Homo sapiens: one gene and its partners. The protein of the gene in region 2 interacts with the protein of the main gene of each other region in a biochemical or structural test. Each region holds a gene or a part of one and is shown on either strand. Other genes may lie near its edges. The genes, in order: SNAI2, PIAS2, SUMO3 and PLAG1.

The links.
Region 1: the proteins of PIAS2 (region 2) and SNAI2 form a complex in vitro, tested with the Homo sapiens proteins (one study listed by BioGRID).
Region 3: the proteins of PIAS2 (region 2) and SUMO3 form a complex in vitro, tested with the Homo sapiens proteins (2 studies listed by BioGRID, with this or other methods).
Region 4: the proteins of PIAS2 (region 2) and PLAG1 form a complex in vitro, tested with the Homo sapiens proteins (one study listed by BioGRID).

Annotation. Positions count from the first base shown.
Region 1 is NC_000008.11:48,918,310-48,925,783, forward strand, and holds the start of SNAI2 (zinc finger protein SNAI2), read right to left. Parts: upstream 3,121-7,474; 5' UTR 2,957-3,120; coding exon 2,878-2,956; intron 2,133-2,877; coding exon 1,587-2,132; intron 680-1,586; coding exon 498-679; 3' UTR 1-497. UniProt on the Homo sapiens protein: Transcriptional repressor that modulates both activator-dependent and basal transcription. Involved in the generation and migration of neural crest cells.
Region 2 is NC_000018.10:46,914,324-46,922,264, forward strand, and holds the start of PIAS2 (E3 SUMO-protein ligase PIAS2), read right to left. Parts: upstream 3,185-7,941; 5' UTR 3,023-3,184; coding exon 2,999-3,022; intron 1-2,998. UniProt on the Homo sapiens protein: Functions as an E3-type small ubiquitin-like modifier (SUMO) ligase, stabilizing the interaction between UBE2I and the substrate, and as a SUMO-tethering factor.
Region 3 is NC_000021.9:44,807,640-44,815,126, forward strand, and holds part of SUMO3 (small ubiquitin-related modifier 3 isoform 1 precursor), read right to left. Parts: intron 6,466-7,487; coding exon 6,337-6,465; coding exon of another isoform or gene 6,223-6,336; intron 1,480-6,222; coding exon 1,408-1,479; intron 1-1,407. UniProt on the Homo sapiens protein: Ubiquitin-like protein which can be covalently attached to target lysines either as a monomer or as a lysine-linked polymer. Does not seem to be involved in protein degradation and may function as an antagonist of ubiquitin in the degradation process.
Region 4 is NC_000008.11:56,208,253-56,216,112, forward strand, and holds the start of PLAG1 (zinc finger protein PLAG1), read right to left. Parts: upstream 3,022-7,860; 5' UTR 2,869-3,021; intron 1-2,868. Other genes in the region: CHCHD7 (coiled-coil-helix-coiled-coil-helix domain-containing protein 7), read left to right, coding at 4,599-4,657, 6,346-6,415. UniProt on the Homo sapiens protein: Transcription factor whose activation results in up-regulation of target genes, such as IGFII, leading to uncontrolled cell proliferation: when overexpressed in cultured cells, higher proliferation rate and transformation are observed.

The DNA of each region.
Region 1 (7,474 bases), on a different chromosome or scaffold from region 2:
CAATGGCAACCAGACAACCGACATGTAATGGAGTAAACTTGGAATACTTTTTAAGGCACCTGAGTTCGCGTCTGGCAGATCTCTTCCTATGGGAAATCCTATTACAGACTCTATTACAAAGCAATACTGTTCTTTTCAGTTGAAATGATTTGGCAGCAATGTAAATCTTTGCATTTTTTTAGGAAGAAAAGATGCAATGTGCTTTTCATTTTATCTTTGAAGAGAAAGGTTACTGTCTTTTATTCTCTCAATCTAGCCATCAGCAAATATATAGTAATTTTAAACTTCACATGGAAAGGATTATCTTTAAACACATGAATTCCATGCTCTTGCAGCTCTCTCTCTGTGGGTGTGTGTGTGTGTGTGTGCATATGTGTGTGTGTCTATACATATTATTTGGTTGGTCAGCACAGGAGAAAATGCCTTTGGACTTTATTTGTCATTTGGCTTCGGAGTGAAGAAATGCATTCTGTTCGAGTAAACATTGATTGCGTCACTCAGTGTGCTACACAGCAGCCAGATTCCTCATGTTTGTGCAGGAGAGACATTCTGGAGAAGGTTTTGGAGCAGTTTTTGCACTGGTATTTCTTTACATCAGAATGGGTCTGCAGATGAGCCCTCAGATTTGACCTGTCTGCAAATGCTCTGTTGCAGTGAGGGCAAGAAAAAGGCTTCTCCCCTGGGGGTGGAGTGGGAGAAAAAAAGAAAGACAGTCAGTGTTTTTAGAGGAAACATAAAGTAAAATCATGTTAACAAAAGTCAATCACATTTTGCTTAAATAATGAGAAGCAGCAAAACCTGATTAAAATCCCTCATAATAGACACTTTTAAAAATACCTGAATTTTTAAGATAAACTTGAATATTGCATTTAAAAATCATACACGAATATTATTACTGCTGCCAATCATACAGAAATAATTTACGTAGTTCTTGGACTTTCACTTCTTAAAGCTTTCTGCTTTAGCAGATGCAGCTAATGTTGAGCACCTCCCAACATTTCCCAATATTTCCCCTTTTCCCTCTTTCTGTACTATGATTAAGGTGGTCTAAGTGCCATGATACCCTGCAGAATAATTCTGTGATACGAATAAGAAATTAAGGAGCAAAAAATCCCCAAACAAAGCAAGAGAGGCAAAGTAAATTTAGTTTCAACTATCCAAGTCACCCACGGGTGACAAATATCAGAGCAAGAATGTAACTAACAGAAAACTGTAGGAAAAGCCTTCATCTATTAACCAAATCAATTGATTAAGATAGCAACATTTGTATTTGCTGATTACTGGGGGCAGTTTCACAGAACACACATTCAAGCACATCTTTCCTGATTTTCTAACTGATCTTTGAGACCAAACCTTCTGAATCTACTTTCCAAAGTCTACATGCTGTTTGCAGTCCCTGGAGCAGAGGTTGTTAGCAAGAAATGGAGCACTTTGTGCCCTAACAACTTTTTGAGTAGTCAGGAAGTAGCTATCAATGACTGTCCATCATTAAAAGCACTATGTCACAACTTCATGCAAATCCAACAGCCAGCCCAGGGCTTCATTGTATCTCAGAGTAACATTCCTGCCTATGGTTTTTCTCTTACCCGTGTGAGTTCTAATGTGTCCTTGAAGCAACCAGGGTCTGGAAAACGCCTTGCCGCAGATCTTGCAAACACAAGGTAATGTGTGGGTCCGAATATGCATCTTCAGGGCGCCCAGGCTCACATATTCCTTGTCACAGTATTTACAGCTGAAAGATTTTCTAGACTGGGCATCGCAGTGCAGCTGCTTATGTTTGGCCAGCCCAGAAAAAGTTGAATAGGTCTTATTGCATAAATTGCACTGAAACTTTTCAGCTTCAATGGCATGGGGGTCTGAAAGCTTGGACTGTAGTCTTTCCTCTTCATCACTAATGGGGCTTTCTGAGCCACTGTGGTCCTTGGAGGAGGTGTCAGATGGAGGAGGGGGACTCACTCGCCCCAAAGATGAGGAGTATCCGGAAAGAGGAGAGAGGCCATTGGGTAGCTGGGCGTGGAATGGAGCAGCGGTAGTCCACACAGTGATGGGGCTGTATGCTCCTGAGCTGAGGATCTCTGGTTGTGGTATGACAGGCATGGAGTAACTCTCATAGAGATACGGGGAAATAATCACTGGGAAAGAAAAGGGAGGGAGAGAAGATTAAGGCAAAAATAATTAAAAATAAATCCACACGCAAGTATACACACACTGGAAAGATATTTAGCAACACACACGTGATTTTCTTAGGAAGAAGATAGACCCATTTAGGAGGGCATACACACTGGTAAAATGTTTCATTTCCACCCTGGCACCTACGGAGTTACTGTACTTAATGCACACATAGGCTGACAGCTGCACGGAGCTATAGGTGCTCTGAAGTCAGACAGTGCAGCCAAGCCAGTGCCTTCGCCGTCCCCATTGAGGAAGGAGAGCCTCAACATTATTTTTAAACATACAGAAAAGTTGTTTTCCATGTTACGTATGGGCTATTTAGGTGTATTACGACCGTGAGTACAAAGATATGCCTGCATCAAGCCGCCTTCTAAAGGAAAGGAGACTTAGTGCATGAAAAACGCAGTAATTCAATCCTTATGTTGCTCATCTTTCACATACTCATTATGCATGTATACACAGGCTTTAGCAAACGAAGCTGCGAGATTTGAATGAAATGTTCCTTGTTAGTCAAGAATTTTAAAAGTTTTGAATTAAAACGAACCCTAAATGATCAAAAGAATGTAAGCTCCCTTTCAGGACACTGTTAAAAAGGAAAACAGTTGAATCTTTGGCTCTTTTGTAATGGTATTTGAAGGGTAATACGTAGATTCATATTTGCAAAGCTCTAGATACGTAGTTCTAGATATATTTTTCTCTTTTTACCTGTATGTGTGTCCAGTTCGCTGTAGTTTGGCTTTTTGGAGGCGTTGAAATGCTTCTTGACCAGGAAGGAGCGCGGCATCTTGCCAGCGGGTCTGGCGGGCGCCCGGCGCGGATAACGGTCCGGCGGGAGGACACGGCGGTCCCTACAGCATCGCGGCGGGCCAGGCTCGGGCAGGGGCCGTGCTCAGGTGCGGCAGACGGACGGGCCGGCGCCTCTGAAGTCACCCGGCTCCTTTACGAACTGAGCCCGTTTTGGCTGGGAGGGTTTTTTTTTCCTCTCTTTTGCAAGAAAGATCCAATCACAGCTGAGAGGTTCAGATTTCAGCTCCTCCCTCTGGGACAGCTGTGAACAGAGGAAGAATCTGTTGTCAGACTAAATTATTCTGGTTCAAAATGGGCTGTTTTTTGAGATTTCAGTGGAGAGGAAAAAAAGTGTTTAAGTATTTTCAAGAGAGGTAACCTCGCTCGGTGAGCCCCGCCCGCGATCCACGCTCTCTGGGAGCTAGGAGGGGCGCAGGAGCCGGGGTCTCTGCCCTGCCCGCCTGGCTTCCAGATGTGGTGCAGCGCCAGCGCGCGGGGACACAGTGTCCGCCAGGAGAAGGAAGGGCCGCCCTGCACCACACCAGGCCAGCCTCTGGTGTTAATGAGAGCCTATATTTGGAAGTGGCATCTGGAGAGGTTTGCCTTGCACAAAGACCAAATAATTACCTCTTGGCTTTTGAAAAAGGAAGGGGGAAGCGGGAAGACAAAGGCGCCTGTGAGCGCGGAGGACGCTCTCCTGGGACTCTGGCCTGGAGCGGGACTGCAGCCTTGCGTGCGGCGAGGGCGCTGCGCTACTCAGGGCTTCCGCGAAGCCAGGGGCAGCGCGGCCGCGTGCAAATTAAGTACTCATGTCACCGTGTTAGCTATGGTGGCTTGAAAGAAATGCTTTGTAGCCCTCTAAAGGCAGGCTGATCGGAAGAACTGGAAGATTGCAAAGATAAAAAGGAACTCTGGCAGAGAAGGGGGGCAAGAGGTAACTGTCATTTGGAACCACCGGACATTCTCTCACACTTTTGACAAGAGATCTTATCTTTTCATGTATTACAGTGCATCTTTTTTTTTATGGGAAAAAGGGTTGTATGGGTCTTTAGAGACAATTATTTTTATTTCTAATATTCCCCTGCTTTTATGTGGTGCTATTTTCATCAGTATAAAGCCATTAAAATCCATCTCAGTATCTACCAGTTTCCTGTATAATGCTAAAAAAGAAATTGAAGGATATTATTATGAATATAGATTGATTAAAGTTTTAAGAACCCAGTCTAGTAACTGCAAAAACACCTTTATTTTGTGTATGGTCTTCAATCTAAAAATACTTTCAGGTGGTTTATTTTAAATATAAAATTTCAAGCATATTTTAAAGCATCTCTGTCCATTGCAGACTTTTATCCCTATCTTTTGCTAAAAGAATAAGGAAAGAACAAATTCACATGAAGATCACCCTACTCTTGTTTCTAACAGGTGCTGGAGGAAAAAAGTGAAAAAGAAAATAACAGTGGTGATGTCAAGACTTGTCAGAGAAAAGTGCATTGTCAGGTTGCATAACTTCTTAATCTTGGAATGAGAAAACAAGAGTGTATGTGTGTTTGGAGGGTGAGGTGGGGCACTCACAGATTTCCTAAGCTAATTTCAATGATTATTCTTATTTCTTCCAACAGTCACTAATTTAAATGTCAAACAGAGAAAATAATTCAAAGGAATCCTTATGCTAATGGAACTGTACTTGCAGGAGAGAGGAAAATATGAATACATATTCGATTTCTCCACACACAAACTGGAACCTGGAGTAAAAGCCAGAGGCAGTTTTCTAAGCTTGCTACTCTATGTGAGGGTTTGTTCGGATGTAGGCACCTGGGTTTATGAGAGCAGGAGTCCTCCTTGCTTTTCACTCCATTTCCCACAAAACACACATTTTTGTTACAGATATAGCACAGTTGAGAAAACACATATCGCCATGGCTATTATTTCCTTGTTTCACTCTACACAGTCTATTCACAACAAAGAAGAGTGTTAGACAATGTTTTGGTATTTATTTGCTGGTAGTTATAACACAAGATCATCTACTAAAATGTGTATTCAAAAATCCATTTACAACGTTTAATAATAATTCACTATGCATGAAAAAAGCTTACATTTGGATCACAGAGGCATAATCCAGCCCAGCCCCATCAGCAGGTATCCGAGGGTGCACTGCACAGATCGGCGTCAGGACGTGCGGCCACACCTACTGTGAGGAGAGGATGGGGCTCGGGTCTGTGCATGGGGCATGTCATTACACAGATCCGCGTGCTAGCGAGTAACACGTATGCCCGTGTGAGGTCTGGGCCGCTGTCAGAGCAGGGCGAGTCTGCGCGCTGATGGCGTGAGTCAGACGAAACAGGTGCTCTGCTCAGACACAGCGGAGGGCATGTGGCGCCAGCACCATGTGGTAAAAACGCAAGCCGGGAAGTCAAGGCCACACCCAAAGGCCAGCTGCTGGGACTCTGCTAAGACAAGACAGAGGTTTCCTTTCCTTCTGCCAGCCAGAGGGCTCATCTGGAGGGGTTGGCTTTGGTCGTTGACAAAAAGACTTTCTCTTGCCCAGGGACAGAAATCTTTGTGGAGGCAACTGCACCAGATTTTAAAGCTTTCATTCTGGAATCCAATAGAAGTCAAATCAATGACTGAGGGGGAAAAATGGAACAAGCAAACCCAAGTGGGTTTGCTAATCCAAGGATTCAGTCCTAGGTTGGTGAGAAATTGGTGCTCCATAATTAGGCTGATTGGGTTTATCAGCCTAATTTATTTCATAACAATTAAATAAATGGTGCTTGTTCTTAGAGCCACGTGGACACAGCCCAGCCAGGGTGAAGCCAGTGGGCACGGGTAAGACAAAAGGAAGGCACAAGCTCTGCTCTTAGGCTCTTGAGAGTTTAATGTAGTGTAGGGAGAAAAAAGGAACTCTGGAGGCCATAGTGAGGCTTAAAAAATAATCCTTCCTAGGCTTGAGCCACACTGGCGAGACTCCATGGCATGGGTTGTGCGGGTTGCCTGGCACCCCAGACACCCGTATAATCTAATTCCTTAATTGCCATGATGTGATTTGATGTGACGTACCTGACAGGCTCTCATTTTCTCTGTTTTCTGAAGAAGCTGACCAAGATAACTTGTGGAAAACTTTGTAAGTTAAAGATCTGGGCCAGCCTTCCCCACAGGCTCCCTGGATGGGTGGGGTTTCTCCCGGAGCCAGTTTTCTTCATGAAAGACACATTCTTGCCCTGCCAAGTAGGGGAATAAATTAGATCCGTGAGGTTTGGGAACGCACCTTGGGTTTCTTTACTTTGCGTGGAGATTTGTACACATTTAGGTATTTAGGTGTGTAAAAAGCAGTGCAAGTATTGACTACCATGTTTAGGAAATGGAGTAGTAAATCTAGCACCAGAAGAAACCAGAGTGTGGCATAGGCTGAAAAATCCCATTTTATGCTGTGTCCTATCTCCTAAAATGAAAGGCATCTCTTTCTAAGTTTGGTGTGTGGTATGATCACTCTGGAGGGGGTTCATATCTCCTCAATTCATATGCATATTCATATCCCTTGAAAAATATGAAGTGATGAAATATCATGAGTTTGGCTGTGCTATCTGGAGAATATTATAATACATTAGTAATTTTAAAAATCTATTTACATAGAAACAAAGCATTTATTAAATATAACTTTGAAGTTTGAATGACAAGGGTGTGATGCCATTTTGTGGGTTTTTAACATACACATATCTGTATGTAAAAGGATTTAGGAAGAAATATTCCTAAATTTCCTTTTGGAAAATTGTCAGAGCGGGCATGGGATTCTGCTTATATATTCTGAGCTCCACAATAAGGAGAACCTCTTTTCTCAAAGGGAATGGATGGCACTCGCCTATGCACTCCACATATGTAAGTATATGTGCTTGGTGATGTCAACAGGGCCAAATATGAGCATGAACACACCTTTGTGTGAGCACTCACATGTCTGAATGTTGGGAAAATAATAGCCAAAAATGGTGTCAGGATGTCCCTCTGCTGTTTAGGAGTTTCCATTATTTCCTGCGTGTTCCCAGTGTCATGTTCAGCAGGCCAATAGCCACTAGGCATCTGCGTCTGTCTGGAGTTAGTGCTAATGCCAATAGCTCAATAAGTACCATCACATATGATCAGTAAATATTTAAGATCACTCCAAACAGAAAACCCTTAACTTGGGAACAGCATTTTAATGAAATCTGCTTTCTGCCAAGTCACTTGTGTTCAGAATCTTATTCCTAGTTATGTTTGTATGATCTCATTTCCCTTTGGGTGGATAGAATATGGTTAAGTGCATCATGAAAAGTAAGAGATATTCATCTCTTCAGTGTTCTGTGTGTACCTTGTGGAAAGTGTTGATGATATTATCTGTAAAATGAAAAAGAAAGACTAGGGAGTGTTGAATTTGTGTGTATTTTAAGCGACAGCTCAGGGATATGTGGTTGCAAAGAGACATCTATTGGTCAGCTTCAGAAGACTCATTATTTTCTTTGTCTTTCTTTCCTTTTCCGTAACTTTT
Region 2 (7,941 bases):
TGATTAGAACAGAAGTAGAGACCTAAACTCAGCCAATCAGATTCTCTCTCCCAGAAGAACTGGAAGAGAGGTGGGCTGGTATTCTGGTCACCCGGACTGAAAGGCAACAAGGTATAGAGCTGCCATATTCTGCTATGACCAGCCAAGATCTCTGGTACTGGCTCACGCAGCAGTCTCCAAAACTGAAATAGTCAGGCGACCCCCTTAACAGTTGCCTAATCGAATAACCAACCCTCCCCCCCCCAACTCCACCCCCGACACACAAGTCTGAAAAGCAAAGGCACCAGGGTCACCAAACCACACTGAGGATTACCTTTCCCAAAATTCCCTATCTCCAGTATAGATGCAGCACTAGCCAGGATATGAACTGCTCTGGTTATACTTGTCCAAAATGAGTAGCCTTGAAGGGTAATGGAAATCCTCTCTGTGGCATATCAGCAGCCAAATATGTGGCATCCAGATCGGCTGACCAATTTCTCTACTGCCAAGAAGTTAGCCAACAAACTAATGCCCAAAATTTTTCCTGGTCCTATAATTTACTTGAGCATCACTCTGACCACCACAATATATTCTGATCCAAGGACCATCATTTTGAGAATCCAAGATTATTTCTTCCCCTTTTCTTTCTTTCTATTCCGTTTTTTAGTCTGTTTTTCTTCCTTTATTATAATGTCACACAAGAAGGATGTTACCAATCATTTAATTTAGGAGCAATCGCAGGATGATGGCTAGAAGCTCCACCTAGACCCCAAGGTACCAGAACAAAGTAGTGTAGCCCGGGCTCTGAAAAGCCCAGACTCTAAAAGCTACATGTCTAAGATTAAAAATCTTAGCTTTTCAAATCTCAAGCTGTGTGATTTAGGTCAGGTTAACCTCTCTGTGCTTCAATTTCTTGAAAAAATTGTGAGAATTAAATAAGTATAGAAAAAATGCTTAGACCAGAACCAGGCATGGAATAACCACTATATTAAAATGGGTATATACCATCATCATCATTACTGTCTGTAATGGGATGTAAGGGCGGGGTACAGTTCATCTTCAAGTGTAGGGTAACATGGGTCTGCACAGAGCAGTTAAGGCAAAGAAAAGCAGATGATGCTTACTGCATGTGCCCAGCCTGCACCCCTCACTCCTCTGAAAATTCTCCCCAGTTAGTCTCTGTTGGGCACGTCATATGAATTGTGGGAGAGGGGCCATCTTCTAAAAATGCAAGAAGTAAAGACAGCTGATTTACAGGAAAAGAGGATGAAGCTGATCCACAAACCAAAACAGAGAGGAAGGCAGAAAGGAAGAGAAAAAAAAGCTTCTTTGGTTTCTATCACTTTCCAGTTGCTGGTTGCACTCCAATCTGAGCACTGACTGCTTTTACTCTGCTCTATAAGAGCGAGTAAATTCTTCGCTTTACATTAAGCTTTGGCCAACAACATTCACAAGAGTCTAATAAAAATCCTGGAAAGTTTTCATTAACAAAAAAAAAAAAAAGAACTTAGAAAACTTGTATACATCTGTTACTACACAAAAATTAAAAATGGCAGGTAAAAATAAATATAACTTCAGAGTTCAGTCTTCTCAACCCATCCTAAATCTAACGCATGAATTTACAGAGGTGAGGTTCAGGGTTCGTTGTTTGAAAAGCTCCACAGGTGTTAAAAGCTCTACAGCTGGGGCTCTGAGCCACTAAAACCCTTAAACTTATCAAGTATGAACACCCTTTACCTACACTTATGGTTCTCTGCATAAACTAGTATGGGGCATAACATGTATTAATATGTGTTTACTGGGAACTTAATAATTATTTTTGAAACAGCAGGAGGGAATATGGCAGGCACTGTGCAAACTCCAACAATCTCCGTTTAGAGCAGAGGATACGTTCTTTTGCTCACGTCCACTAAGCAGGTAACCAGCCAACATCCTTCCCCCATCCCATCTCTTGCGGAAAACAATAAATATACAAAACTGAACCTTTTACCGGATTCCTCTTCCTTATTTGAAAAAGAAATCCTAATATCATAAGTGTTACACAAACGAGTTGCAGTAAATGTAATTTCAAGTTTACACTCATCTCTACCTTGATACATTTAAAAAAAAAAAAAATCAGGGTTTCTGTCCGTAAACATCTCATTTATGTCGCCAGTAATTCAGCGATACACACAAATCCATCTCATTCGTCACACTTAGTTAGGACTTTAAAGGTTATCAGTCTGGGGGGAAAAAGTCTCTTCTGTTCTACCCCCATCACAGCCCTATTCCAGACCTCTGCTATACAAGGGTATCAACAATAAAGTTATGATCTTGTTTTAAGACTGAGAAGAAAAAAATATTTTTCCTCAAGAGTAAAAGGGGTGCACAAACCTCACAACATAGACTTTGCAGATTTCTTACTAAAACACTAAGAAAATATCGAGGTTTAAGGCCGATTATTGAAGGCAGGGATCCCCAAACATTAGGTTCCTCGAAGATGTTAGGAGGCAAGGGTGGGAGAAGGGGCCTTTTCTCGTGACAGACCTGACTAAACGGTAGCATCAGCCATAAGAAGAGGAGAGATTCCTAAACGCAACTTCAGCTTTCAGAAAACAGTCCTCCACCAAGTGAGTAGCATGCAGACTTGTGAATAGCCACAGACACGTACACCCCGGTGAAGGTGCAAGATCAAACGTTGCTTCCCACATCGGCCCTCACTGCGAACCGGGATGTCGGGTCCCCATGTGCCCCTCCTGGAGGGCGCCCCGACCCCCCGCGCCAGGTGTGCGGACCACTGGCAGCACTCAGGAGCCGGCTCGCCGCGGCCCAGGCCCGCCGCCCCCGCGCCGCCCGCGTGCCCTCCGCCGGCCCGCTCCCCTCCCCCGCGCCCTCGGCGCCCGTTCGTCCGCGGGCCGGGGCTCAGGGCTCCGCCAACCGGCCCCAGAGGCACGAGCAGGCGGCGGCCGGCGACGTTGCGGTTTCCCCACCTCCTCTCCCATCCCCTCCCCCGCGGCCTCCGCTCTCCACTCCCGCTTACCCTCAACTCTTCGAAATCCGCCATTTTATACCACCCGCGGGCGCCGCCGCCGCTGCCGCCGCACCCACTCCCGCTGCCGCCAACGACGCTGCCGCCACCACGGCCGCCGCCGCCTCCAGCACCATCCTGCACTGGGCGCCGCTTAAGACGCCGCGGCCGCCGCCGCTACAGCCGGGCCCGTCACGTGAACGGCGCGGGAGCTCCGCCTCCGACGCGCCGAAGCCCCGCCCCTAGCGGTGCCCCCTGCCCACCCGCGCGACCGCCTTCCGCCCGCGCCTTCAGTCCGCGCGGCGACAGCGCCCGCCCGCGCCTGCCCCGGCGTGCTGCCCCGCGGCTTGGCCCCGCTCGGCCCCAGGTCGTGCCTTCCCTCCCCGGCGGAGGCCCCTGCGGACTGCCTAGAGCTGGGTCGCAACTGAGGCGTTATCCGCGGGCCTGGCCTCGGGAAGTGGCGGGGAGGAAGAAGAGGCGGCCGGGACGCGTGACAGGAGCATTCGGGAAGATTCTTACGGTGCCCTTCACGCGGTGCCTATGGACGGAGAAAGCCGCCGCAAATAAAACCATCCCCCAGAGTAGTTGTGGCGGAATAATCTAAATATGGGTGTTGGGTAAGCTATTGTTCCCATCTAATGGTGAGGTTGTGTGACACCTCTTTGAATTGCTAATGTCCTGCAAGTACCAACCTTGCCGAGTTTTTCTGACCTTGAAGGGCACCTGAAGGTCACGGACTGCAGAGTTGGGAGAGTTAGGCGGTGGGGTTGGGGGCGGGGAGAAGTGAAATAAGAGCGCTCAGAAGGGCCATGCTAAAAAGTCGGGGAAATCTGATAGCTAGGAAGGAGTCAAACGCCAAGGCAGAGTAAGTAGATAGAAGGAAGCTTGATGGCCCCCCCGTAATGTGCTGATATAGGATGAAGGAAGATGCTGAGTCAAGATGGCCAGAAAAATCGCTGGACGGTGTCCAGGGTTCAATTTCCTTGAAGAATTGGGTGGAACCCACACACGAGAGGTCTTTAAAACAATGTAACTTTTAAGGCCCTGTTTAATCAGCCTCCTACCTACCGCCTCTTCCCACTACCCCTCGTTTCATCCGCACTGCACTTCCAGGTCTTCCTTCCACTCCCCTGCCCCCGCACCCCGCAAGTTTTGTTTTTTTGAGACGGAGTTTTGCTCTTGTTGCCCAGGCTGGAGTGCAATGGCACGATCTCGGCTCACCGCAATGTCTGCCTCCCGGGTTCAAGCGATTCTCCTACCTCCGCCTCCCGAGTAGCTGCGATTGTATTTTTGGTAGAAACGAGGTTTCTCCAAGTTGGTCAGGCTGGTCTCCAACTCCGGACCTCAGGTGATCCGCCCGCCTCGGCCTCCCAAAGTACTGAGATTACAGGCGTGAGCCACTGCACCCGGCCTCCCCTCAAGTTTTAAGGCTTCTAAATGTTGATCCTTGAACCAAGAATAATTTCCCACTCTCTTCTTTGTTCCTAACTCCTGTTCATCCTTCAGGTTTCACTTTAAGTGTCACTTCCTCAGGAAGACCATCCCTCACCCACATCCCACATTTTAATTCAAATTCCCCTGTTATGACCTCTCCTAGGACCCTGAACTTTTTCTTCCTGAGATGTCTCCATGGTAATTATGTAGGTATTTGTGTAATTGTTTATTTGATATATATGTGTGTGCGTGTATATATATATATGTGTGTGTGTGTGTGTGTGTGTGTTGTGTATATATACACAACACACACACATATTGTTTTGGCCAGGTGCAGTGGCTCATGCCTGTAATCCCAGCACTTTAGGAAGCCGAGGCAGGTGGATCACTTGAGGTCGGGAGTTGCAGACCAGCCAGGCCAACATGGTGAAACCCTGTCTCTACTAAAAATACAAAAATTAGGCCAGGAGCTGTGGCCCACGCTCTAAATTCCAGCACTTTGGGAGGCAGAGGCGGGCGGATCACCTGAGGTTGGGAGTTGGAGGCCAGCCTGACCAACATGGAGAAACCCCGTCTCCACCAAAAATGCAAAATTAGCCAGGCGTGGTGGCGCATTCCTGTAATCCCAGCTACTCCGGAGACTAAGGCAGGAGAATCGCTTGAACCCTGGAGGCGGAGGTTCCAGGGAGCGGAGATAGCGCCATTGCACTCCAGCCTGGGCAACAAAAGCGAAACTCCATCTCAAAAAAAAAAAAATTAGCCGGGTGTGGTGGCACATGCCTGTAATCCCAGCTACTCGTGAGGCTGAGACAGGAAAATTGCTTGAACCCAGGAGGTGGAGGTTGCAGTGAGCTGCGATCGCACCATTGCACTCCAGCCTGGGCAACAGAGTGAGACTTTGTCTCAAAAAATAAAAATTATTATTTTAAAATTTTATGTTAAAAAATTGTAAACCCACTAGACTATAATGGCTGATAAATGCCTAACAAATAGTTGGCCTTGTATTTGTTTAATGAATAAAGGAATGAATGAACAATGTCCAGGTTCTAAATCTGTCTCTCCACCATTAACTTTGTGATCTTCGCTTGGCTTATTCTTACTCTTGATTTATTCTCCGTAGACCTTGATTTACACCTCAGTAGAATTTAACATTGTTTAGTAGGCTTTAAGTGAATGCCACTGTGGGAGGAGTTTTCGGGGAATAGACGAATAGAGTACAATACAGCCCTGCCACAGAGGAGCTTACACCCATAAAGAGGACCAACATAAACACAAAACAGTAAGAAAAGAAAAGCAAAGCCCCACTGAAACTTACGTGCAGTGTTCTTTGTAGTTGCTTCCCAGCATTCATTCTGCCCCTTCCTCAATGTGTAGCAGCTCCTGGATGGGTTGGGTAGGTTTGACTGCAAAGAGTTCTAGGTGCTGCCCTAGACTGGCCTGAGTCATTAAGGACTGTTATGTCATTCTGGCCACAGTATTAGATCACAACTGGGCATATAAATCTGATTAGTACTGAGCATTTATAGGCTTTGCCAAGTAGATCAAGTGTGGACCCGTGCCCTAAGGTAGGCTAATCAGAGGGAAGCCTAGGACATTTATTCAGTGATTAGAGATAAGACTTTCTGGCATGTGGAACACTCGCCATTTTGCTACAGTGAAGAGCCAACCTGAGAACCAACCCTTCTTGTGAGCAGAAAAATCACACACACACAAAATCTCAGCATTGACTTTGATACTCACTCTGCCTCTGTACTGGCCAGTTTTCTTGAGCCAATGCCTTTCTTGTAAGGTTTTAGATTGTTTGAGTTGAGATTTCTATTAGTTGCAATAGAAAGAATTCTGAAATAGGGTGCTACTTTGTCTCACCAGACCAGATTATTAATTTGGCATTTTTTCTAATCTATACTCCCCAATAATCATTCAATATATGTTCAAAGGAATGGCTGAGTGGTAAAGGGTAGAAAGGGCATGTTTCTCTTCACTGTTGTGATCATTTCTGCTCTGGTCTAGATTTATATATCCTCATTAAAAAGAAATCCCTGCACTTACTTGAATCCAACTTCCTTATAACATAGTAATGTGGTATACCCTTAAAGGGGAGTGGAGAAGGAGGGAGGTGCAGTAATCTTATCACTCACAAAAGGCCACATATCAAAGTACCAGTGCCAGCCACATGCTGAACTCTTCTACCAGAGGAATTCTATTAAATATATCCTTTTTCTTTATTACATTTCCAATGGTAAAATGTTTTAGTGCTCTTTATGGATTGAATCTCCAGGCAATTACCTGACTAGGCTACCGTCTTAAAATGGCTCCAAATTAGAAGATTCATTATAAGTACTGTGATTAAAGTGTCCTAAGTTTTTTTGTTTGTTTGTTTTTTGTTTCTGTTTTTGCTTTTTGGGACGGAGTCTCGCTCTGTTGCCCAGTCTGGAGTGCAGTGGCACGATCTCGGCTCACTGCAACCTCTGCCCCCCCGAATTTAAGCAATTCTCTGCCTCAGCCTCCCAAGTAGCTGGGATTACAGGCACCCGCCACCATGCCCAGCTAATTTTTGTACTTTTAGTAGAGATGGGGTTTCACCGTCTTGGTCAGGCTAGTCTTGAACTCCTGACCTCGTGATCCACCTGCCTTGGCCTCCCAAAGTGCTGGGATTACAGGCATGAGCTACTGCGCCTGGCATAAAGTGTCATAAGATTTTAATACACGAAGTCAAAAATCTCAGGAGTAGCTTTTCCATTTACTAGCTGTGTAACTTTAGCAAAGTCTCAACTTAATTTTTCTAATCTGGAAAAGAAAAATGACTACACCTATCTCAGGATGAGATACCTGATCTGATAGATCAGGTGTATGAGTGTACTCTGTAAATTTATAAAGTGAAAGATGGTAAATTTTTTGTATCTAAACAGCTAAGCTGATTTTGAATCTAAACAGCTGATAAACACATAACAAAAAAAAAAAAGCACTTCATTAAGAAACATAATTAAGAACCATATGATATATCCTAGTAATTTTAGCAAAGAGCATTCCAACCTGGTTGGACCAACCATGTAACCTTGAGTTTAGTTCCAAGCACCTGTCTTCTTAATCCTTTCACATCTGTCTCTGAACCCATTAGACTTTACTGATTTTAATATCTCTCTTTTCCTTCCCACTGATTACTTCCTCTCTCCCTATAACAGTGCTCAGGCCTCCCAGATGTTTTCCAAGCCACTTTACTTCTTTTGCTAAGCATATATCTATTTATATCACATTTCCTAACTCCTACACACTTTGCCAATACTGTCTTAGTCTTAGACTTTACCAAAACTAGTATCAAGGAAACTGAACAAGGAATTAAAAAAAAATTTTTCCTCACTTTTTTTTTTTTTTTTTGAGACAGGGTCTCACTCTGTCGCCCAGGCTAGAGTGCAGTGGCATGATCACAGCTCACTGCAACCTTCACCTCCCAGCTCAAGCAGTCTTCGTACCTCAGCCTCCCAAGTAGCTGGGACCACGGGCACACCACCACTCTCAGCTAA
Region 3 (7,487 bases), on a different chromosome or scaffold from region 2:
AAGAGGAAGCTTCTGCCAGTTCCTACACAGACTCAGCAAGGCTGGAAGTAGTCATGCTCCCAGATGGAAAGGAGTCCCATCAGGGCTGTCGGCCACCCTCACCCTGCCACCGACACTATGGGCTGGAGGGAGAGCCCCCAGGCAGGGCTCCCTCTGCCTCTCGGTCCACCTGTCCACAGCCAGCCCCCTGACCCCCAGTCAAGCCCCAGAGACTCCACGAGGCCCTCCCTGCTCAGCTGCTCTCAGCAGCTTCTCCCTGGTGAACACTCCCAGAGCTGCCACTGCCTCAGCGGTGTGTAGGTTTCCTCAAGTAGGTACAAATGGATACTTGTTGCAAAGATGTTTTCAATATTTATTAAATACTGAATAGTAAATATTTAAAATCTTAAATGTTTTGCAAAAATATTTCCACATAAAACATTCCAGTGGATTCTCACAACATTGAAAGGGAGAAAAAGCAGGTATTGGTTCCATTTATGGACAGACAAAACTGAGACTCCACAAGATGAAGTGATGCTTGGTCACGGGGCCATCAGCTGACAAATGACAAGAGCTGCAACTTGAACCAAGTTTAAAAAAAAACTCTGTTTCGGCCGGGCGCGTTGGCTCATGCCTTTAATCCCAGCACTTTGGGGGGCTGAGGTGGGCAGATCACAAGGTCAGGAGATCGAGACCATCCTGGCTAACATGGTGAAACCCCGTCTCTACTAAAAATACAAAAAAATTAGCCGGGAGTGGTGGTGGGCACCTATAGTCCCAGCTACTTGGGAGGCTGAGGCAGGAGAATGGCGTGAACTCAGGAGGCAGAGCTTGCACAGTGAGCTGAGACTGCGCCACTGCATTCTAGCCTGGGCAACAAAGCGAGACTCCGTCTCAAAAAAAAAAGTCTGTTTCCAGGTCCAAAGCTCTTTCCATGACAGTATGATGCCCTGCAACGTGATAGATGAAATCTCATTCATGTCTGCATGTGCCTGAGAGAAACGAGCTGTGCAGACTGATAATCAGGGGTTATGGCACATTCTGCCCACCCACGTCACTTGTGCAAGATGCTTAAAGGGCACAAGAATCCAGCTGGCCCCTAAGCTGCACACGGGCTACAACAGCAAGCGTCCAGACAATGAGTGGGAAGGGGCCGCTGAGTGGTCCTTGCACCCCCGCTTCCCTTACAGTGAGGACGGGCCCAGCACTTGGCTCCATCTCCAAACAGCAAGAATGATGTCTGCAAAGCAGTTTTCTCATTTGAAAATTTAAATTTAAAATGTGAAAAATAAATAATCTAATAATCAATATCATTAAGGCATTCTGTATGAGCTCCCACCTACAATTCTCAAATAAGCGTATCCCAAATGGCAGTTACCCCGCACAAATCGGAAGTCGCCCTGGAACCACGCGAAGCCAGCTCCGTACCTGTGCTGGAGTGTCAGTTTCATTGATTGGCTGCCCGTCGAACCTGAATCTGATCTGCCTCATTGACAAGCCCTGGAAAGGAAAAGCAGTGGCCATTAGTCTCACTGGCAAGCCCTGGAAAGGAAAAGCAGTGGCCATTAGTCTCACTGACAAGCCCTGGAGAGGAAAAGCAGTGGCCATTAAACATTTCCAGATACGGCTTAATTCAAAAACCAAATATTTTAATCCAAGTATCAGCATTCTGATATGCAGATTTATGATCCAGCTCAGTATTAAAAACTCACCAGTGGGCCTACAATCTCTTTCACGCGGTGCCTGACACCACTGCTTTCAGAACCCACTCTTCTACCATCTTCTCTCTGATGAGCTAAAACGGCTCATTTTCAACCCAGGTTTTGTTACACCATTGCATACTGGGAACTTCTTAAAGCCAAACCAGTGGCAGTTCAGTTTCAAAGCAGATAGGTAAGTGGTCCATGGCAGAAGGAAAGCCGACTTACATTCAAACACCAGAACACAAGAGACGTCCTAGACTAACATCCAAACTCATGTACCTCTAAAATCCACCCTTTCTTTACATACGAAACCCAGGTGAGGAAGCGTAACACGTCACAGTGACGCTAGCTCAGACAGCTGTCAGCCAGGAGGTCTCTGAGGAGCAGGAGAAAAGCTGGACTAGCATTGGTGATGTGCCAGGGGAGGGGAAATGAGCCGCCAGGTGAATACTAACCTTCCAGTGGCTAGCTTTTCAATCAAAGTTTCTCAGTGCAGTGGCCGTGTGGAATGGTCAATTCAAACACTGAATCTTCTCTGTCCTGGTGCCCTGACCTGTCCTGGGTCATCCCTCCCATCTTTCCAGAAGCCGAGTAGAACTTCTACAATGCTGGCACCACTACTTCCCCCCTTTACAAAGTTCTCAGCAAGGAACAGGTTGTGTGCCAATGAGGGACAGATAAGAAGGCTGCATGAGGCCGGGGAGCAGTTACCACCATGACTTTGGCCTTGAGGAGGGCAGCAGGAAGGAGAGCACGCAGCCTTTCTGCGTCCTGAGGGAATGGAGAAATGTGGTCAGGGGCAGAAACATTTCCTCAACGAGCAGTTTTGATTTAACTGAAACAGGACAGACGGGGTTAAAACGTGCATCTCTGCTCCCTCCTGAAACCCCACTGAAATGAAGTAAATGAAAAAGGCACAAACAGGAAGGACAAAGAAAACGGGAGTGGGGATGGGCAGATATGTCAATGCTGGGCTGAGCCAGAGGCTACTGAGGCGTGGACACTGGTGGTCTGATGGACACTGGACCAGGATCCTAGGGCGGAGGGACTGGGCACGCCCCAACCTGTGAGGCAGAGCTGTGGCAGGCAGCTGATTCTGAACAGCTGCCTGGAAGTTCACATGCAGACCCCTCAGGCAGGACCCCCACAACCCTGTGCCTCCCACGGCAGCACACATGAGATGTGCTTTCTGAGAAGGTGGGTGCGGAGCTCCAGGCGCAGGGCGGAAACAGGCCCACGAAAGCGCGTGCCCTCAACACTGTGCGCCAAGTCCCCTCTCCCCTCCAGATGCGCCTCCAGGAGGCTGGCCGGAGCCTGGAGGACTCAACTCTCAAACTGTAGCATCTGGGCGCCTCCAGAACCTGCAATCCAGACAGATCACCCCATGTGGATGCACAGCCCTGGCAGCACAGCCATCCATGTACACAGCTTTTCAGCAGCTTCTCGGTGCTCCATGCTTGCACAGAAGTCAGCCTGCGTGAGAGCAGTCAGGGAAAGGCTCACTGTGCAGCAGCCTAGAGAGGAGGGGAGGAGCGCAGAGGAGAACGGACAGGAAGGAGGCAGGAGAACACTCCCAACACAGGCACACACATGCCCACACCCACACATGCCCACACCCACACACATGCACACACCCACACATGCACACCCATGCACACACCCATGCACACACCCACACATGCACACACCCACATATGCACACACGCACACACCCACATACACACACGCACACACCCACACATACACACACACGAATGCACACATGCACACACCCACATACACACACATGCACACACCCACATATACACACAGGCACACACCCACACATACACACACAGGCACACACCCACACATACACACACATGCACAAAGACACGGACATACACACCACACACACCTACACTCACGATTCAAATTCTATGGGAAGTAAAAAATACTACTACCTTCAGAAAACAATCAATTGCTACTGAGGATGGGTGCGGTGGCTCACACCTGTAATCCCAGCACTTTGGGAGACCGAGGCAGAAGGATCACTTAAGCCCAGGAATTCCAGACCAGCCTGGACCACATAAGGAGACCCCATCTCCACAAAATAAAAAAATGAGCCAGGCGTGGTGGCGTGTACCTGGAGTCCCACCTACTCGGGAGGCTGAGGTGGGAGGATCACTTGAGCCCCAGGGCTCAAGGCTGCAGTGAACCATGATCACACCACTGCGCTCCAGCTTGGGGGACAGAGTGAGACCCTGTCTCAAAAAAAATAAGTTGCTACTGAGAAAAAAAGAACACTCAAAGAACAGAAAGAAAAAAGAACTTTTGGAAATTAAAAATCATGACAGAGATGAGAATGTCCACAGGAAGTGGAAAGATAAAGTTGAAATGACCTCCCGGAAAGAAGCCCAAATGCAACAATAAAGCCCAAAGCAAAATGGGAGAAAAATTATCAAATTTAAAATATCTAGGACAATGAGCAGCAGGAGGAACAGGAACTCCAAAAAGAGGGAACAGAGTCTGGAGAAGGATACAAATTATCAGAGAACTAACATAAGGCATATTTCCTGAATAAAAATAAACGTCCAGACCCATAAAGTGCCCAGCAGCATGAGTGAGAAAATCACCCACCTCTGAGGCACATAAGGAAACACTGAATGCCAGAATATGGTCCCAGATACTTCCAGGGAAAAACCAAGTTACAAACAAAGCACAGAGAATCAGAATCCACTGAACTTCTCACCTTTTTTTTTTTTTTTTTTTTTTTGAGACAGGGTCTTGCTCTGTCACCCAGGCTGGAGCAGTGATATGACCTCAGCTCCCTGCAGCCTCCACCTCCTGGGCTCAAACAATCCTCCCACCTCAGCCTCCTGAGTAGCTGGGACTATAGGCTTGCACCACCACACCTGGCTAATTTTTTTAATGTTTCGTAGAGACAGGGTCTCCCTGTGTTGCCCAGGCTTGGCACTGAACTCCTGACCTCAAGTCTTGAATTCCTGACCTCAAGTGATCCTCCCACATCAGCCTCCCAAAGTGCTGGGATTACAGGCATAAGCCACCATGCCTGGTGAACTTTTCACTTTTAACATTGGGAGCTATTCTCATGGCTGACCTCTGAAATAAAAAAGAAAAAAAAGTTTCAACCGAGAATATTACGTGCAGCCACATACTGAAGTGTGAAGGTTTATAAAAGCAAAAGTCACGTTCAGCCATGCAGTGTCTCAAAGACGCTGCCCTTCTGTGCCCGTTCTGACAAGACCCTGGAGGATGTGCTCCACCACAAAACACAAAAGGGAGGAGGACTAATCCAGGAAACACCCAAGAGAGAACCCAAGTTTCTAGAAGGATTTGAACAGGAGGCCCTGGACCACGGCTGAGCAGCCAGCCTCACAAGCAGCAGTGCAGGTGGGGCAGGAGGGGAGCTCCGGGAGAGCAGGGGGAAGGGCAGAGCCCCCCCCACATGTACACGGCCCCACACGCCTGCCATCCCGCAGCGCAGAGGAGAACATGGGCACCCGGGAAGTCACACACACAGTGGCCACGAGCCCAGGCAGTACAAACTCCAGCAAGGGCCAGGGCCCAGCATCAGGCAGAGGCTGGATCACGGGGCCTACACGGCGCCAGGCCACTCACTCTGCTGGGAAGACCGGGACCTGCGTGTCTGGAAGCTCAGTCTCACCTTTCGCAGGTGAAAATAAGATCTGCCCTCAGCAAACACAAAGAAAGGAAGTCAGGGGCTGCTTGCCAATAAAGAATGCAAGGCAGTCGCCAGTGACTGCCCCTATGAGCAGGGTATCCAAAGTGGGAGGGAAAGAGGAGGAAATCTAACTGAAAATCCACAGGCAAAAGAGTAAAATAAAAGGGCAACGAGTTGCTGTATTTTCAAAGCGGCTGAAGAAAAGCAGCCTCTAGGTCCCACTCAGGCAAGCAGGGCTCCCTGGGGAAGGGCGCCTGGCTGCAGGGCCGGGCCCCCAACACACCAGGCAGCAGCTGGTGGGCAAAGCCCATAAAAGTGGCCTAGAGAGGGACCCCCTGGCCCAGGGTGAGTCCGCCACAGCGTTACCAAGAACAACAGACACACACACACCACGTCACAAACAGCAGCCAGAAGGCATCCACCCAGCTGGGCACTGCCAGTGGGGCAGCTCATTATCCTGAAACTGGGGAAGAAGGGGAAAGAATCACGCGCTTTCTTGCCTTTCCTAACAAAATGGAAAACCACACCGCACATGAGGGCAGTGTCTCTCCAGGGTCAGGCCAGCTCATACGCGAGGACAGGGTGACAGCGGCGTGGGGCACACGCCACCTGCAGCCCCAGAATGGCCAGACCTGAGCAGGGCCCCCAAGAGCCTTCAGCATCACAGACTTCACAGATGTTAGTACCCCATGGAGAACACAGCACCCCGGGCAGCCGCCCTGTCAGGAAGAAAAACCCACCACACTTCTCCGAGCCTCTAGGTCCCTCCACCTTATAAAAGGCCATGGGGGACAAGCCCAGCCTGGACTAATTTTACAGCACAAGCCCCCGCCTGCCCATCCACGAAGAGGGCACCTCGGGCAGCTGCATCTGGGTCCAGCCCCGAGACGCTCGTGCTCTGGGGATGCCTGGAACGCACAGGACCAGTGCGCACACGGGGAGGCTCTGCGGGGGAGCAAGGTGCCGCACCTGCCTCTCGCAGTAGGCCTTCATCAGCTTGCTCAGCGGCGTGTGCCTCTTGATCTTGAACTGCACCACGGAGCCGTCCTGCCCGGCCACCTTCAGGTTGATGTGGTCATTCTCTGTCTTCACACCCTCCTGCAGAAGACACCAGAGACTGGCCTCAAAACTGTGTCTCAAAATAACCGCGACTTGAATGGGCAAGTCTTTAGGTAATTGTTGGCTTTTTAAAGTCATCAAAACCAACCTAATTCTTAAAATTCTCCAGCAATTCAGAGTCACTCGTGATGGTTTTATTTTTACACAGAATTTATTTTTAACTTCCACTTGTTAAGCATCCATGTGTAAAACAATGCAAGCCTAGGGTCCTCTGACATTGTTAATTCAAAGAAAAAAACAAAGTCTAGGGAAAAATAAGAGAAAATCCATCTTTATTTTAAAGTTATTCTTGTGGGCTGGGCACAGTGGCTCACACCTGTTATCCCAGTACTTTGGGAGTTGACGTGGGAGGATGGCGTAAGCCCAGGAGTTTGAGACCAGTCTGGGCAACAGAGCAAGACCCCATCTCTTTTTTAAAAAATTCTTATGAAACCAGTAAAAACACATATCCAAAAGTCATGCAGCTATACAGCACTAGTAAAAGAAACCAAAAACAGAAGAAAACATTTGTGACTCAGAGGAACCCTATGGGACATTCAAGTGGTGATTTCGGGAATCCAACTGAGGACGGCCACTCCCCACAGCAGGCGGCCAGGCTCCTTCTCGCTGCCCTGACATCAGCAAATGTGAGGGAAGCCACCTCCGAGTACTTTCTGGTTTCAAACTGTCCTATCTGAGCGGCAGTAGGTGGTACTATTTTATTTTTTAATTCATGCCATACTTGAAGCTACTCAACAATGGCACAATCGGGGTGTCTTGTTGCCTGAAAATGCATTTTGAGTTGAGGCAAAAAGCTGATGTCAAGAGACTGGGAGCCAACTTCGGGGCAGCTCAGTCTGAGCCGAAAAGTGGGGCACCCCTCTGCCGGCCTGCACTGCTGGGATAAAGTCGTTTGTGAGTGAAGCAATGAGGCAGGGCCCTCCGGCTCACTCTGAAAGTCAAGTCTGGGGCGTCCTGGTACCCTTTCACCCCATGCTGAGCTGCTGCCCTCAGGAAGCACT
Region 4 (7,860 bases), on a different chromosome or scaffold from region 2:
TCTTAATGGCATTCTGAAACCTCTGGACAGAAGATCATTGGGCATGGAGGAGTTTCCCTTCTCTATTGATAGCTTAATCCTTTTCCAATCAATTTTGATTTAACTGTGGGTGATGAGATTAATCTTTTAATGAGTTCTTAGAAAGTTGTAATTGCTTCCAAAATCAGAAACCACAAGATGATGTACTCAAACACGTTACTGATGTGATGTTGTATAGAGGTATTTACAGAAAGTTGGAAGAACTCAGTTGTAAACACAAGTTAACATACAATAGACTACAAAAATAATAACTTGTTTATACAGTAGGGCAAGAAAAAACATTCTATATAAGAAGTCTAAAAATTCAGCTCTAATTTTAATCCATGTCTATAAATAATAAAAACAAGAGGAAATAAGGATTTATTTCAGAAACTCCATATACCTGTGGAAAATGGAACACAAGTAATTTCTACTGAAGATTAACCTTAATCCCCATTATAGTACAGCTAACAATTTACACATTTTAAATTTTGAAAATATCGTGGAAATCTAAAACATAAGAGCCGATAGTAGTTTATGGTCAGTAAACACTTTCTGTTAAATAACACAAATAAATTCAACTTAGAAAATGAAAACTCACAGGGCTCAGGATTTTAAAAATCTTTTCATTTCAAAGGCGCAAAGTTACAACCCATGCATAGGATGGACTTTAAAAATGGATGTGTAAACTTTTCCATGGTGTTGGTGTGTGTGCTTTCCTTCCCCCTAAAGAAATGCCTACTGCTTACAATTTTAAAGAATCTTCACCACTCTGTAATTTTCAACCAGAAGTCCTCAATGTACCTTAAGCCAAATTGAATATTAAGGTATTTTACAGTTTTTACAAAATGGCTGTAAAATCACATTATGGGCATACACAGCTCTTTGATCTCACTGCACAGAATTCATAACTGTTCAATAATGCTATACCATTACACCACACACCTTAAACTATTTCCATTTTTCCACAATTCCTTCCAAAATCAGCTTCCAAAGCAAAGCAATGTAACATGAAAAGTTCCTGGGAGGGCTTGTTACACAAAGGAACAGTTTGGATACAAACTATACACATATCCATCTTCGGTTGAGGCTGTTTATCCCTCCTGTCCCTCCATCACTCCTATGGGTGGGTGCACTGGAGTAACAGAAAGGGAAGGCTCTTCCATCACCACACCCTCCCAGCACCTCTGCTTTTGGTCCTCAGACAGTGATTCTGTGTAGGTGATGAAAACCATAAGAAAAGAGAAGCTGTCCCTTTAAAATGCCCTGCTCTGTCCCATATCCCACGTGGAACCAACATCAGCAGCACTTTCCCATTAACATCAATGTGATGCAAGAGACATCATCCTTTTATACACATAAAACCAGAAAACCTCAGCTTAACATTCTTTAGGAAGGATGAACAGGTGAAGCAAACATGTCAGGAAGGGGGAAACCAAGCAACTCCACATCCCTCCCCAAAAGGTACTCCAGCCTTGCACTCCAGCCTCTCTGAGCACCATCACCTCTCTATCCCTCCTCTGCAGAGCCCAGTTTAAAGAAAGGAGGGAGCCACTAACAAAACCTGAAGCATAAATGCGACGAAAATGCAATCTAAAGCCGGAAAGGTTCATTCTTCCAATCACACATATTAACTCTATTAAGAAAATGGCATCACTTTTTTTTCCACCCAAAAAAACCCCGCAAAGATCATTAAAAGAGAGTTATAAAATAGCAAATATAGTGTTTATCTTATCTGAGATCAGTCCACATTACCAATAAGTTTAGCAGTTTCTGCACTACCACCTCCCCCCTCGCTCCCCCTGCTTCTCTTGCATCGGATTTTCACGTTTTCTCATTGTCGGTTGAGTTATAAAAGGCTTTTGCCCTTCGAAAGTTTTAAAAAATAAATAAATATTAACTCCTTGGTCCCTGCAAAGTCAAAATGGACTTCAGGGGAAAGGCGGTACATACTTTTACCTTTAGCGAGAAAAGGGGGAGCATCCCGGATTTTTAGGGATTTTTTGCGATTTTTTAAAAATTTTTATTTGGTTATATGCCTGAGTTCTCCCTCCATTTTGGTTGTTTATGATACTGACAACAAGCTGTCCCTGCTCTGTGCCGATCTCCTGCTTTCATTTAGCACCCCCTCCCCCTACCCCCCCTCGCAGCCACACACCCCGGGCTCACACCTCCCTGCAGACCCCGCACCCCGACCCCGGCTTGCCCACCTGAGGAAAGGGCAAAAACAAATTCATTTCTCCAGAAAAGAAAAACCTCTTTTGAAAAAGGGGCAAAGTTACCCCAAGTCACTCAAAGTGCCCCCCAAATATTGCCGACTGCGGGTTTCCGCCAGGCCCTTTGGGAAGCGACCTTCCCCCGGGATGTTTTGGTGGAAAATGCGGAGAGTTTACTCTCAAAACTGAATTTATATTAATTTTTCCCTTATTTTTCGGGTCTCTAATGTCTTCCGCTCTCGCTGCTGCCGCTGCCGCTGTCACAATATTCACAGCACCAGAGAGGAGGAGGAGGAGGAGGAGGAGGAAAACTTTTCAAACTTTCCAGACCCTGAATAAAGGTTTTTTTTTTTTTCCCACCGACCTCACCTTCGGGTCCCCAGCCGCATCGCCCCCTGCCCTGTCAGAAGCGACTTCGGGAGTCCTCGCAGCCCCGCGTAATTATTTTATTTTATTTTTTATTATTATTTTTCTCTCTGGGGTCCTGAGCAGGGGCTGAGAGTAGCACAAACTTTTCCTCCTCCTGCCGCCGCCGCTGCTCCTCTGCCCCCTCGGCTAGTCCCATAATTTAAATAACCCTGATATTTCTCCCGCTAAACGCCTCGCCGCCGCCCCGGACCCCCGGAGAACTCACCGCGGGGCTTTAACATCCTCCCTCCGGCCCGTCCGCCGCCTCTACACCGCCCGCGGAATTTCTAATAATTTTTTTCTCATATTTCGGGCTGGACGCGGCGGGCCTGGAAATTGTTTCCTTACGCCTCTTTCCAGCAGCCATTGTAGTGTATGCGCTGCCCCTGCAGCCCAACTTGCAGCTGCCGCCGCCGCCGCCGCCGCCGCCGCCGACGTCGCGCCCACCGCTGCCTCCCCCTGCCTGTTCGGCCACCGCCCCCGCCTCCCGTCGGCCCGCCCCCAAACCCCGCCCGCCGCTGCGCCCGCCCCCCGCGCGCGCTCCGCCCGAGAGCTGGCCACTCGGAGCCGCCGCTGGCGGGAGTTGGCCCGCCCATTGGGCCGCGACGCCGCCCGTCAAGCCGAAGTGTTAAGAGACGGGCCGCGGCTGGGGGGCGCGGTGGGGCGGGGGAAGAGGGGGCGGGGTCGCGCTCACCGCCCCGCCCACTCCTCCCGCCTCGGCCCTCCTTTCGCCAGGCGGGGGCGGGGCGAGGCCCGACCGCCCCTGCGGCCCAGGGCCCCGCGCGGCTGTCAGTCTGGCGGCGGCGCGCGCCGATTGGGCGGGCTGCCGCCGGGGAGCGGGGGCAGCAAGTTGGGATGCGCGCTACTTAAGGTCCTGCTGCGTGAGCCATTGACGTGTTTGGAGCTGGAGACGGCCTGGGTGCTGGCGAAGCGGAGGCCGGAGGTGAGTGGTTCCCCCGCCCTACCTCCGAAGCGGCCGCAGAAAAGCGGGGAGAGAGGGGTGCCCTTGGGCCGTAGCGGGGCCCGAATGCACTTCTGCGGCGCGGAGGCGCTCCCGCCAGGCTTCGCCGCAGCGCGGACCTCTTCCCGTTGCTCTTCCTCCCGCCACACGGGTCTGTTCGCTCCGGGGGCGAGGAAGATGACCTCTGCCTAGTCCGGGCAACCCCAGCTCTTCTTCCACTCTCCTGTGTAGCCTCTGAAGCGCAGTTACCGGCCCCACCCCCAGTTCCCTGCGTTTTCCTCGCCCCTTGTCTCTCTCGGCATGGTCTCGGCACAGCAAGGTGTGTTCACCTGTGCGCGCCGTCCAGGATCAGATGCTGACGGGCTACACCGCGGAAGGCGGCGAGGCCTCGGGTTCGCCCTTCGTTTCTCCTTGCCCTGCGCGCCCACCTCCGGCAGGCCACCCTTGACTTCTTGCCCCCTTCCACTTTGCACCTGGCAGTGGGTTAACGGCACGGCGTGTGCAGCTTCCGGGTTTAGCAGAGCCGCGGACCCTGCCTGGGCTCCGACCACGGGGCGTGTGGGCATGAACGTGTTCAGAAACGTTTCCTTCCCCCTGCCCTTTCAAAGCTACTTAGAGAGGGGGGACGTGAACCACTGGATGGGAAATCAGGAACTGCTTTATTAAGCAGTTTGCCCTTTGGAGTGGATTTTAGAGTTATCCCCTGAATGTGCTATGGTTTTGTGGCCCCTCCTTCATATCTTTGCTTGGTTTTTCTTTCTGGTTATGCTCTGCAAGTAGTAGAGCCTTGTAACATTTATTTAGTACATTCAAAAAGTAATAGACAAGGCCCCTTTAGCGGAGCACTCGATGTTGTAATTCAGCCCCGCTCCTCACTGTAAATTGACATTTCCTCTTCAATTCCAGTTAATACACGAGGAACTCATGCAAAGGAGGGGACTTTCGGAAATCCAAACTTAGAGTGCCTTGTATTTAGAATCCGGAAGGAAAAGGAAATGAAATGTGAAGAAACTCATGCACCAAACTCGAACTGGGTATATGTGATGTTACCTAGGTATTATTTTTGAAGAATTTCTGACTGACAATAAAATATAGAGTAGGATACTTTCATGTAAGGCACGAAACTTAAATTTAATGCAAGGTTGTCTGATCCTTGTTGAGATTATTAAATCTAAGGTGTATGAAGAGTTCTGTGTTCTCACATCATAGGATAGGTGTAAAAAAGAAAGCTGTGAATTTATTTACTATCATCATCTCTCTTAGGAAGAAGGGAAGTGTGGAAAAAAATTGTCTTCAGGAGAGGAAGAAGCTTGTAGATATAATTGAACAGCATCTTGATTTCTTTTTTGCCAAGATGTTACTGTTGGCTGGTTATTTTCTTGTATTGTTCAATGAAAATCATAAAATTATTATTCAGTGATTACTTAATGGACACCAGAATAACCAAACCCTTTTCCATTCTTTTTTTTGCAAAGGCTGGTCTCCTTTGGCCTGGACGTCCTGATCTTTCCCATAGTAGAACTGGGCTGGGTGTCTCTTTTTTTTTTTTTTGAGACGGCGTCTTCCACTGCTGTCGCTTGGGCTGGAGTGCAGTGGCGCGATCTCGGCTCACTGCAACCTCTGCTTCCCAAGTTCAGGCGATTCTCTTGCCTCAGCCTCCTGAGTAGTTGGGATTACAGGCGCGTGCCACCACGCTCAGCTAATTTTTGTATTTTTAGTAGACAGGGGGTTTCACCATGTTGGCCAGGCTGGTCTTGAACTCCTGACCTCGTGATCCGCCCGACTCGGCCTCCTAAACTTTTGCAAAGCTGTATCTCTAGGAATTGAATTGGAAGATTACTGAAGCACAGTAGCATTCCCTGACTTCCTGCAACGCAGGGAAATAGTTAAAAAGAAGATGCCACTGGAAGTAAAATTTCAACTCTTTTGTTTTTGAAACAGTATAGCTTTTCATAATGTCAACTAAGCAATAACTTGGCTTTTTGGTGTGTTGGCTACCCTACTATTGGCCATAAAATAGGCACTCTGGTACTTCAGTTGATGAATGTTTTTGCTAAAGTTGGACTGTACCGAATTTCATTCTTATTTTGTACGCTAATTGGTGTAAAATAAGGAAGTAATTGTTGGAATGCATACTGTATTCTTAGGTTTTATTAGTACATTTGGTTGCTTAAACTTAAGAATAAGAGTAAACAACAACTGAATTATAATTGAACTATCTTTCTTTTTCGTTTTTTTGAGACAGGGTCTCTCTCTGTCACCCAGGCTGGAGTGCACTGGTGCAATCACAGCTCTCTGCAGCCTTGACTTCCTGGGCTATCCCACCTTACTTAGCCTTCCAAGTAGCTGGGACCACAGGCACACGGCACGACACCAGGCTAATTTTTGTATTTTTGGTAGAAATGGGGTTTCTCTGTGTCGCCTAGGTTGATCTCGAACTGCTGAGCTTAAGCAGCCCTCTCGCTCCAGCCTCCCAAAGTGCTGGGATTACAGGCGTGAGACACCGCACCCAGCCAGTAGATGCATTTCAATCCAATATATGGCCTTTGTGTTGAGGCATGGCAATACAAAGGAAAAACACGTTCAAGTTTTTATTCACAAAGTACAGAGAATACATGAAGTTCCTCACTAAGTGATCATTATGCCAAAATCAAAATTTCAGGTACTTTTAGTGCTATTGAGATGTATTGATTTATTTTCTGTCAACTACTGTATAATTATTTTTTTTCTGTCTACCCTCAGTAAGAAGACTGTTAGAATGCCCTCGGTAACACAGAGGCTGAGAGATCCTGACATAAATCCTTGTTTGTCGGTAGGATGGTTTGCTTTAATTTTCATGAGTGTTAAGTTGGAAAAACAGGCTGCTCTAGTTTTGTGGGCCTTTGTTTTCTGCAGTTGTTGAATAAAGTTATTTCTCTAGAAAAAATATTGTTGGCCAGCATATCCTATTTAACTAGAGCATTTTTAGATGTTTATAATTTCTCTAACAAACATTCATCTTTTCTTTAGTTTTCCTTATTTGTATAATATGCAAGCATTTGGTTGTCACTGTAAAACTAGACAGGAAAATGTAACACTGAGAATATTTAGTCCAAACATGGAAAACTGGAAGGTATGATATTTTTAAACTGTCACTGACATTTATTGTTTCACTAGCAATAATATCACCATGTCCTTGACAACCTGGCTGAGAGTAATGGGCTGATAATATAATTAGCCTATTTAAAGCTTAAAGGTTTTCACAAAGGTATCTGATAAACAAAATGTTTTAAGAGTAAGCTTTTATTGGCATTTATTTGGTATGATTTGCGATACTTACTTGTGGCTTTGCTACGTTTGAATAATGTAGTTATCATACTGGTCCCATGAAAATTATACTCTTTAGTTATATGCATTTTCCAAATATATACATTCATTAAATATTTGGCACAGAAATTCAGCTTTGTTCTGTTTACGTAGAACATGTTTCTTAGATATGTGTTGCAAACTGTCTACCCATATAGCTAAAGCTTTCCTTTAGATCTGTGTTCCCCAACCTTTTGGGCACCAAGGACCGGTTTTGTGGAAGACAATTTTTCCACGGATGGGGAAGGGGGCGGGCGTCAAAAGGCATTAGATTCTCCTAAGGAGCTTGCAGCCTAGATCCCTCACATGCACGCAGTTCACAATAGGGTTCGTGATATTAGATCCCACAATAGGGATCTAATAGCATTAGATGAGAATCTAATGCTGCCACTGATGTGACAGGAAGGGGAGCTCAGGCGGTAAGGCTCACTTGCCCATTGCTCATCTCCTGCTATCTGGCCGGGTTCCTAACAGACCGAAGACCAGTACCACTTTGTGGCCTGGGGGTTGGGGACCCCTGCTTTAGGTGACCTCACAGAATCATACCTTTCACTTTTAAGTTTGTTATTCAATCTACTTCCAGTTCACACAGCTTAAATTTAATCCCCATGTGGCACCTACTTTCCTTTGAATTTATAGCTTGTGTTGTTGACTTCGGTTTTGAAGTAATATCTATTAAAATTGCTTATATAATAGTGTATTTGTATAATGGAGTAAATGGTAGCCAAAAATGCATTGAGATGAATGGTGTTAATTTAGGTTGTCTTGTTGTAGACCAGTTATTAGTGATTTACTTGGAATCTTGAAACCAATATTATGATCAAACATTGAAGCCAAAGTGAAAATCTGGAAAAACAGGAGAGATGTACTGTGAGTCAGGAGATGGATTCTGATTCTAGTTGTGCAGTAGTC